2 linked regions of the Homo sapiens genome follow. The protein of the gene in region 1 purifies or fractionates together with the protein of each later gene. This does not show direct contact. Each region holds a gene or a part of one and is shown in the gene's direction. Other genes may lie near its edges.

The links.
Region 2: the proteins of GSX1 (region 1) and S100A13 purify together in Homo sapiens (affinity purification with mass spectrometry; one large-scale study listed by BioGRID and IntAct). This does not show direct contact.

The regions. Positions count from the first base shown.
Region 1 is NC_000013.11:27,790,456-27,795,743, forward strand, and holds GSX1 (GS homeobox 1), read left to right. Parts: upstream 1-2,027; 5' UTR 2,028-2,235; coding exon 2,236-2,647; intron 2,648-3,110; coding exon 3,111-3,493; 3' UTR 3,494-4,313; downstream 4,314-5,288. UniProt on the Homo sapiens protein: Probable transcription factor that binds to the DNA sequence 5'-GC[TA][AC]ATTA[GA]-3'. Activates the transcription of the GHRH gene. Plays an important role in pituitary development.
Region 2 is NC_000001.11:153,620,499-153,624,852, reverse strand, and holds part of S100A13 (protein S100-A13), read left to right. Parts: intron 1-4,354. UniProt on the Homo sapiens protein: Plays a role in the export of proteins that lack a signal peptide and are secreted by an alternative pathway. Binds two calcium ions per subunit. Binds one copper ion. Binding of one copper ion does not interfere with calcium binding.

The DNA.
Region 1 (5,288 bases):
AAACCTGGTTATTCCCCCCACCCCCACCCCCACCCCCATATTCTTTCCCAGTAGCTTTGGCCTTGCTCGCATTCAGGGGCTCTTAACCCCTTCCTCCCCGGGCACGCGGGGCGGCTGCCAGTGGAGCTCCACGCTGGCCACTCGCGGGCTCCCAGCTCCGGGTGCAGTGCCCGCCCCTTGCACCCCTGGGCCCCGCCCGCCCTTGCGCCCCTCCAGCCTGCCTCTGCCCAGCGGAAAGCCCCTCTCCCCGCCCGGGTCTCGCTCTTCGCTTCCTCTCAGCGACCCAGCCCAGCTCAAATTTCCCAGAGAGCAATTAGAACGGGAATTAGGCTGCATTGATGCGTTCCGGCTGGTTTGCAGGCACCACCCTAGAGTGGGGGAGCCTTGGCGCTGAGACTCTGTCTCAGAGGGCAGCCTTGCCCCCCACTCCATGCCAAGCAACCAAGAAAACATTGAACCCTTACTCCTGCTAGATGCCATGCCCTCCATGCAGGTTACTTCTCCCATTGTCCTATTCCCTTTTACAGAAGCAGTTATTATCTCGCAAAACAAATTATCTTTGCTTTTTAATCAGTTATAATCTGTTGCTGTTGTTATTGCAAAGATGTTGCCAAGGATAAAAGCCCATGCAGATGCTTCGGGTTTGGGCAATCTTATTCCTGCGCACTGCTTCCCCAGACCCCTAAGCTTCCCCCTCCATTTCTCACAATTCCATTCAGGGCTCAGAGCAGGTGACTGCAGCGATTTGGTTCCAATAAAATCGAAAGTAAACGTCTCCTGTGAAAAGTCCCGGGCTGTAAATTAGAAATGTTTATGCTGATTTCCCATTGTATGGAAAAAGCTCCTGGGCGAAACAGCTTTGAGCCCGAGAACGATTTAAAAAGCTGGAGCTGTGTACACAGCTCTGAGCGTTTGAAGTTGTTTAACCATTGTGTGACCAGAAAGAAGAGTGACGCGGCAGGAAGAAGAAGCCGGGTCTTGGGGAGAGCGGAGGCGGGTCAGGGTGGGCAAAGGCAGCCGATGCCAGGAATACAACCGCCCTTCGCGCCGTTCCAAACTAAGAGATGGCAGCGGTTTCCCAGCGCACTGCTGGAAGTGTGCTCCAGTAGACAGGGTGTGGGCAAGATGCGCGGGCAGACAGTCCGCACTCGCCACATGTGCTGGGGTGCGAGATCTAGATCTGCGCCATCTCGGCTTTCATTCCCCATTCCCTGTCTCTGTTCGTAACGCTCAGAGACTGTTTTTCCTCTTTTACATCCACGGCCCTGTCATTTGAAGGAAAGGGCTGGTTGGCCAGCATCTACCGAACAAAGACTGGGCGTCGTAGGCAGCACCAAAATTAAGACTATTTGAGAAACTTAGAGAAAACCGAGGGACAGCGATGGGTCTAGGGCTGGATAAGGAATAATGAGCCCTTCTCCTCCCTCCCCACAGACGCCTCCTTCACGCGGGAACCCGGTCCTCCTTCTTCCGACGCAGAGAGAGAAGCGATTCCACAGGTGGAAAATCTGAGACCGGCTGGAGGGAGGTTCGGGGGTGCACGGCACTGAGCTGACAGGGCTGACTGGAGACAGCATACTTTTGGGGTGTAAGGGCGATAATAGAAAGAAGGGGACCAGGACCAAGTGGACAGAGGATATGAGGGTGTGCGCCCATGGGGATCTGTAGAAGAGAGGCCGCGGGGGTGCAAAATCAGTAAGGTGAACGGGCTGATGGCCAATGCAAAGCCAAAGGGGAGTAAGAAATAAAGAGAAAGGAAAGAATATTAAATCGCGGGAGAATGAGAAAATAAACCCGCAAAAGGGAGAGGAGGGGGCGAGGGCGCCTGTTACGGCGTGGGTGGGGTTGACAAGAATAGAGTACATTATGCAGTTCATTTAGTTAACAAGTGAAATAATGAGGAAGCGTGCAGAGTGAATGCCAAGAGAAAAGGCACAAAAACCCTATTGAGAGGCCCCGGCCGCTCCTGGCGTAGTCCATCACATGGCAATAGTCCTATTTAAGCCGCGCCGCCGGCGCCTTTCAGCACCACTAGCGCTGGCCAGCACCCCGCGCTCTTTGGGCGGTGCCCACGGCAGCAGAGGCTACTGTTTCAGCCTAGGTCTCAGCCGCGCGTTCAGCCTCCTGGGCAGAGGCAGCTGCGGGATACCGCGGCCAGGGAAAGCGCGTGGAGAGCCGAAAGGTGCGGTGGGCGCAGAGGGCGGGCTGGCTGCGGGGCGACCGCGCGCCGGGGCCATGCCGCGCTCCTTCCTGGTGGACTCGCTAGTGCTGCGCGAGGCGGGCGAGAAGAAGGCGCCCGAGGGCAGCCCGCCGCCGCTCTTCCCCTACGCTGTGCCCCCGCCGCACGCGCTGCACGGTCTCTCGCCTGGCGCCTGCCACGCGCGCAAGGCTGGGCTGCTGTGCGTGTGCCCGCTCTGCGTCACCGCCTCGCAGCTGCATGGGCCCCCCGGGCCGCCCGCGCTGCCTCTACTCAAGGCTTCCTTCCCACCCTTCGGCTCGCAGTACTGCCACGCGCCCCTGGGCCGCCAGCACTCTGCTGTGTCGCCCGGGGTCGCTCACGGCCCGGCCGCCGCTGCTGCTGCCGCCGCGCTCTACCAGACCTCCTACCCGCTGCCTGACCCCAGGCAGTTCCACTGCATCTCTGTGGGTAAGCGGGGCCGCCGCGCAGAGGGACCGGGCAGAGGTGATCCGAAGCAGGATGGAGAGCCAGAGATGGAGGAAGAGGGACCCTGGGCTTTCTGGGGGCGGTGAGGGTCATGTCGGGGACTAAGGGGGGCGCTTGGGGTGGAGTGAGGATAGAGGGCCGGGACACAACGCCAGGAGGCGGATGAGGGCAGACGTCCAGGTCCTGGAGTGTGGGCCGGGGTAAGTGAGGGCTGGGATCCAAGGCTCTCCATGAAGGGGAAGGGGTTCCAGGGCTGCATGACTCCGGGAGAATCAGGATCTCGGAGCTGGACAAGGAGCGCTCACTGTAGCTCTGCTGTGGATTGTGTTGGGGCGAAGAGATGGGTAAGAGGTCAAAGTCGTAGGATTCTGGCGACCGCCTACCAAGGGATTGGGTCCACAGCACAGAGGTCTGATCGCTTCCTTCTCTGCTCTGCCACCTCCAGACAGCAGCTCTAACCAGCTGCCCAGCAGCAAGAGGATGCGCACGGCTTTCACCAGCACGCAGCTGCTAGAGCTGGAGCGCGAGTTCGCTTCTAATATGTACCTGTCCCGCCTACGTCGCATCGAGATCGCGACCTACCTGAATCTGTCCGAGAAGCAGGTGAAGATCTGGTTTCAGAACCGCCGAGTGAAGCACAAGAAGGAGGGCAAGGGCAGCAACCATCGTGGCGGCGGCGGCGGGGGTGCCGGTGGTGGCGGGAGCGCACCGCAAGGCTGCAAGTGCGCATCGCTCTCCTCAGCCAAGTGCTCCGAGGATGACGACGAATTGCCCATGTCTCCGTCCTCCTCAGGGAAGGACGACCGGGATCTTACGGTCACTCCCTAGGCGCGTGTCTCCCTAGGTCGCCCACCCCAAGACCTCCCTGCGCCTCGGAGACTAGTCCTGGGACTCAGCGCTGATTCCCAGGCACCCGCAGCCAAACCACTGCCTGGCATGGATTTGGCACTGCTTTGCAGAGGTCCCGGGCCTGGGCAGGGCTGAGAGCTTGGCAGAGACTGGACCATGGCGTCCCCGCCCCAGGGCTCGCTCGTGTCCAAAGCCAACTCCAAGCTGTGAACACTGTAAGCGCTCGAGTCCTCCTGGGCAGTGCAGCACCGCGGCCCCCGCCCGCAAGCCTGCTTGGCGCAGCGCCTTGCTGGCAGCCGGCGCCTCCTAGCCCGCCCTCTCTGGGCTGGCTTGGGCTTCCTCGCTTACTCTACTCTCCTCCGCTCTCGGTCAAGGTCGGCGGCCTTGGATGCTCGTTCGCTTCTCTTTTTAAAATGTCTTTTTGTCCCTCCCCACCTCTTTCCTGTGATCATTTATTCACTCGGCCCCCGCCCGCCAACACACACATTTATGAACCCCCACTTTTTTTTTCCTTCTCCTTTTCCCTTCCCCTCCTCAGGGAGCCTCCTCCTTCAGTCAGTCCATTTGTCCCTTGATCTGGCCTTGCTGTCCTCAGTCCCCACGGCTCCTCTCACAGATGATAAATTTCGCCCGTAGTATCCATATTGGGGAAACAGATTTGCTCTGTTTCCAACACGCTCTTCCTTCCTCTAAACATAGGACCCCGCTCTGCGCCGCTGGCGACCCCACTCTTCCCCCTCCAGACTCTGGCCCGCCCCAGCCTAGCTGTGTAATTGTACGGCCTCTGCAATGCCAGAAGATATTTATTTATTTATTTATGTACAAAATTTTAAATAAACTTTTTTTTTTCTTAGAAATGCCCGTGGCTCTGAGCCCAGAGGCCTTCGCTCTGGAGTAGACAGGCGCCAACCCGGATTGGGCCTCCCTTCTGGGAAGGGTTGGGGATCCAGTTGCAGGGTCCGAGCCGGCTCCTCGCCTTACAGCTCAGCCAGTGCCTCTCGGAACCCTCAGCTCCGCTGAGAGCCCGCCTTGCATGCCAGCCAGGTGCGCGCTAACGATTGTCCCGCTCCGGCGTGGCGCACAAGCGTCGCGGAGCTCAGAGAGCTAAGCCGGAAGGGAAGGAGAGCGCTCTCCTTGGACTGCACCATGGGTCCCAACCCCTGCAGCGCCTCCTTCTCACCTGGGATCCAGCCCCACCTCCATCCCTCACCATTTCGCTGTCCTGGCCAACAGCCGGGAGGGCAGAAACCACTCCCTCCATAAGCACAAGAAATCCGTCCTTCACTGCGCTTGGATTGATAACGATTCGTTAGGGACAAATTTCCATTCTGCGGGATGGTGCAGACTTCTCTCAGAGGGCCCTCCTCTCTTTGTTTTAAGGCAAATTCCCTTAGCCGAGTCCCTGGTCGCGGAACATTCCGGGCAAGGAATCCGAGAATCCGAAGTGATCCTGCCCCAGGGAGTCCCCGAGAGGGACTCTGCATAGCTGGAGCCAGTGGCTCTGGGACCTCATGTTCTCACCAATTCTCGTTAAAATCCTATATCCCCCTACGACTTAGAATCCACACCCCAGCTCCCTTTGAGGACATATGCGGGTTTTTTTACTCTCTAAGATGGATGAGGAGAAGGAAGTGCGTGAGGTTCTGCAGAAACGGAGAGCGCACAGCTGCGGGAGGAGTATTTCTGCAGTCAGTATTTCTGCAGTCAGACCTGGGAAGCTAATATCCGCGTTCTCGCCGCTCCCATTCTGTGTCCAGGAAACCTGATAGACCTT
Region 2 (4,354 bases), on another chromosome or scaffold:
TCCACCTGCCTCGGCCTCTCAAAGTGCTGGAATTACAGGCGTGAGCCACCGCGCCTGGCCTAATTTTTAAGTTACTTGTAGAGATGTGGTCTCTCTGTGTTTCCCAAGCTGGTCTCAAACTCTAGGCCTCAAGTGATCCTCCTGCATTGGCCTTCCAAAGTGTTGGGATTACAGTCATGAGCCACTGTGCCCAGCCAGACGTTTCCTTTTTCATCTTTTTTACTGGAAACTTCAGGTTCTCTCCTGAAGGGACAGCATTCCTTATATCCTTGTCAAGCAGTGATTGTGGTTTTTTTTTTTTTTTTCCTAAATTCAACTTCCTCTGGGCCTGGAAATGGAGGAAGTGACCTCTCTGCTTTCCATTATCTCTAGATTTTAGTTTCTTCTTCTTTCTAAGACTTCCCAGCGCCTTGGAAGATCATCTGCCACCTGCCATTCTTCTTATTGCGCTCCTTACAGCTCTTCAGCTCCTGGCTCACTGTTTTCTTCTCATCACTGCTTCTGTTGTTATTCTCAGTGGCTTCAGCATCCGCACAGACAATTCATCCAACATCTGGGCCTTTCAATTTTCTCAACTCCTCATTTCCAAAAAGATTTGTCTTCTTACATCTCAGCATCCCACTCCTCTGTTCATGCTTTAGACTGTGTCATTAACAAAATAACGCACAACTTCCAAAATCTTGATTTCAAGTTTCCCTTTATCTGCTGACCTCCTCCTGTCATTCCAGTTCTGTTCCCCTCTCTAGCTTCTCCACTTCAGCACTTCCCTGACTCCTCAGGTACCTTCAGTCTCTCGACCCTCTCACTTTTGCATCTTCCATCAACATCCCTCGGGTCCTCATTGCCCTTCCTCCTCACCTCAGGTTCTAAGGCTTCTAATTGTAATCACTGCCTTAACCCCGTTGATTCTGTCTCTCTCTGTTCTCAACCCAGTTAATCCACCATTTCACCTATAGTAACTTGCCAGTTAAATCCACTGTTCTGCACCTGCACTTGGATAGCTGAATCTGGCTGGAGAAAAATGCATAGCTTTGTTGACTTGTCTCACTTTAAATCTATAACCACAGACCCCAAAAGGGACCCTTGGCAATACCTGGCGGTTCTGTGTTTCCCTGGTTGATTCATTTACCAGTTCTTTCAGATAATTATTTCACAATTTGTCTTCTCTCCTCAAAGCTCAGTACATCTTTCCACGTTCTCCCTTTTCCTGAGAAGTTTACTCACTGAGAAGTTCAGGACTTCGAGACCAGCCTGGCCAACATAGTGAAACCCCATCTCTACTAAAAATATATTTAAAAAATTAGCTGGGCATGGTTGTGTGCGCCTGTAATCCCAGCTACTTGGGAGGCTGAAGCAGGAAAATTGCTTGAACCCAGGAGGCAGAGGTTGCAGGGAGCTGAGATTGCACCACTGCACTCCAGCCTGGGCAACAGAGGGAGACTGTCTCAAAGGAAAAAAAAAAAAAAGGAAACGAAAATAGGAGCAATCAGGAAACTTGTATGTGCTCCCTCCCCGAAATCAGCAGTCTTCTGTTATGCAAATGATACGTCACTGCCCCTAAGGCCAACCCTTCACTGGTGCCCTGGATCCCATCCCCTCTCACCCACTGCACTCCAGTCTGGGTGACCGACAGAGCGAGACTCCGTCTCAAAAAAAAAGACTTTCCTCTTGAAATTACTCCTCTCTTTCTTGTGTCCTCAAATTTTCCTTCTCCACTGTATCGTTCTTACCAGCTTACAACTGATACCTCTTTTTTTTTTTTTGAGACAGAGTCTCACTTTGTTGCCCAGGCTAGAGTGCAATGGCGTGATTACAGTTCACTGCAGCCTCTACCTCCTACGCTCAAGTGATCCTTCCACCTCAGCCTTCTGAGTAGCTGGGACTACAGGCATGTGCCACCATGTCTGGCTAATTTTTTAATTTTTTTGTAGAGACAGGGCCTCTGTACGTGTGCGTGCATGTAATTAGGTAAGCAAAGATACTGTGTGCCAGTGGGAGTATGGGCTTGTATCAGATGATGCTGTTGGGTTCTTGTGTATGTTCTGTGCTTTTCTGGTCTAATTTCCCCAAGACAGGACTGGACCCAGAGCTGGCTTCCAGGAGATTCACAGACCATCACAGCTGGAAGGAGGCCAAGAGAAAACACAGTCCCCATTCCTCACTTCACATATATGGAAACTGAGGCCTAATTTTTAAATGTTTTTGTAGAGGCAGGGCCTCATTATATTGCCCATGCTGGTCTTGAACTCCTAGGCTTAAGTGATCCTCCTGCCCTGGCCTCCCAAAGTGTTGGGATTACAGGCATGAGCCACTATGCCCAGCCCAATCCTTTATTGATGGAAATTTTTCTTATGTCCATTTCTTCCTTCTTGCAAATATCTGTTTGTATACCTACATACTGGTGGAAAAATAACAACATAAGGTAAATGTTTGGCAGTAGAAATATTAGGTTAAGTGGCATGTTCATTTTTAATTTGTTTTTGAGAAAGGATCTTGCTCTTTCACCCAGGCTGGAGTGCAGTGGCATGATCTCGGGTCACTGCAACCTCTGCCTCCCAGGTTCAAGCGATTTTCCTGGCTCAGCCTCCCTGAGTAGCTGGGACTACAGGCTTGTGCCACCACGCCTGGCTAATTTTTGTATTTTTAGTAGAGACGAGGTTTCGCCATGTTGGCCAGGCTGGTCTCGCACTCCTGACTTCAGATGATCTGCCTGCCTCGGCCTCCCAAAGTGCTGGGATTACAGGGGTGAGCCACCGAGACCAGCTTTCATTTTTAATTTTTGTGATTACCAATTTGCCTCCTAAAAAAGTTGTACCAGTTTATATGGCTACCCACACTTCATGCGATGCCTGTGTACTTGTCCAAACTGGGTGTTATTGAGCTTTTACTTTTTGCTAATCTATGATGTGAAAATGATATCTTTTTCTGATTTACGCTTATATAATTCTGAGTGAAATGGAACTTCAATTTTTTTTTTTTTTAATTTTTTTGAGACGAGGTCTCACTCTGTCACCCAGGCTGGGCTGGAGTGCAGTGGTGTGATCTCGGCTCACTGCAACCTCCACCTCTTGGGTTCGAGCGATTCTTGAACCGTGCATCACCATGCCTGGCTGATTTTTGCATTTTTAGTAGAGATGGGGTTTCTTTCTTTCTTTCTTTCTTTTTTTTTTTGAGCAGCAGCAAGATTTATTGCAAAGAGCGAAAGAACAAAGCTTCCACAGTGTGAGAGACCCGAGCGGGTTGCCCGAGATGGGGTTTCATCACGTTGGCCAGGCTGGTCTTGAACGCCTGACCTCGAGTTATCCACCCGCCTTGGCCTCCCAAAGTTCTGGGATTACAGGCATGAGCCACCATGCCCAGCCAGTAACATTTTATAATGTTAAAAAGAATCCTGTAGGCCGGGCGTGGTGGCTCATGCCTGTAATCCCAGACCTTTTGGAGGCTGAGGTGGGTGGATCACCTGAGGTCAGGAGTTTGAGACTAGCCTGGCAAACATGGTGAAACCCCATCTCTACTAAAAATAGAAAAATTAGCAAGGCGTGGTGGTGGGTGCCTATAATCCCAGCTCCTCGGGAGGCTGAGGCAGGAGAATTGCTTGAACCCAGAAGGTGGGGGTTGCAGTGAGCTGAGATCATACTACTGCACGCCAGCCTGGGCGACAGAGTAAGACTCCATCTCAAAAAAAAAAAAAAATCCTGTAGATAGTTTAATTGGGATCATATAAAAGATATATTTTAGGGAAAATCAACATTTTTAGCTGATTGAGCCTTTCTCTTTAAGAAAAATATATGTTTATTCCATTTTCTATTTATTCAAGGTTTTTTTTAATATCCCTGTGGTATAATATGAAATATATAGTTGTCATTTTGTATCCATGGGAATTGTTCCCAGAACCCCCTTGGATGCCAAAATCCTTGGATGCTCAATTACCTTTTTTTGTCCTTTTCTTGTAGAGATGGGTGTCTCACAATGTTGCCCTGGCTGGTCTTGAACTCCTGGGCTCAAGCGATCCTCTCACCTTGGCCTCCCCAAAGTGCTGAGATTGCAGGTGTGAGCCACCATGCCTGGCCTCAAATCCCTTATATAAAATCAGATAGTACTTGCATATAACCTATGCACATCCTCCTGTATACTTTAAATTACAAGTAACTCTAGGTTACTTGTAATACATAATGCAGTGCCTACTCATCACTTCATTCACATGGATTCAACTTAGTACTTAGCATGGGGCAAAATTTAAGTTTTGCTTTTTGGAACTTTGTGGATTTTTTTCTTCAAATATTTTTGGTTCTAGGTTGGTTGAATCCAGGGCTGTGGAACCCACTGATACTGGTATGGTATTTGGTATTTGGCC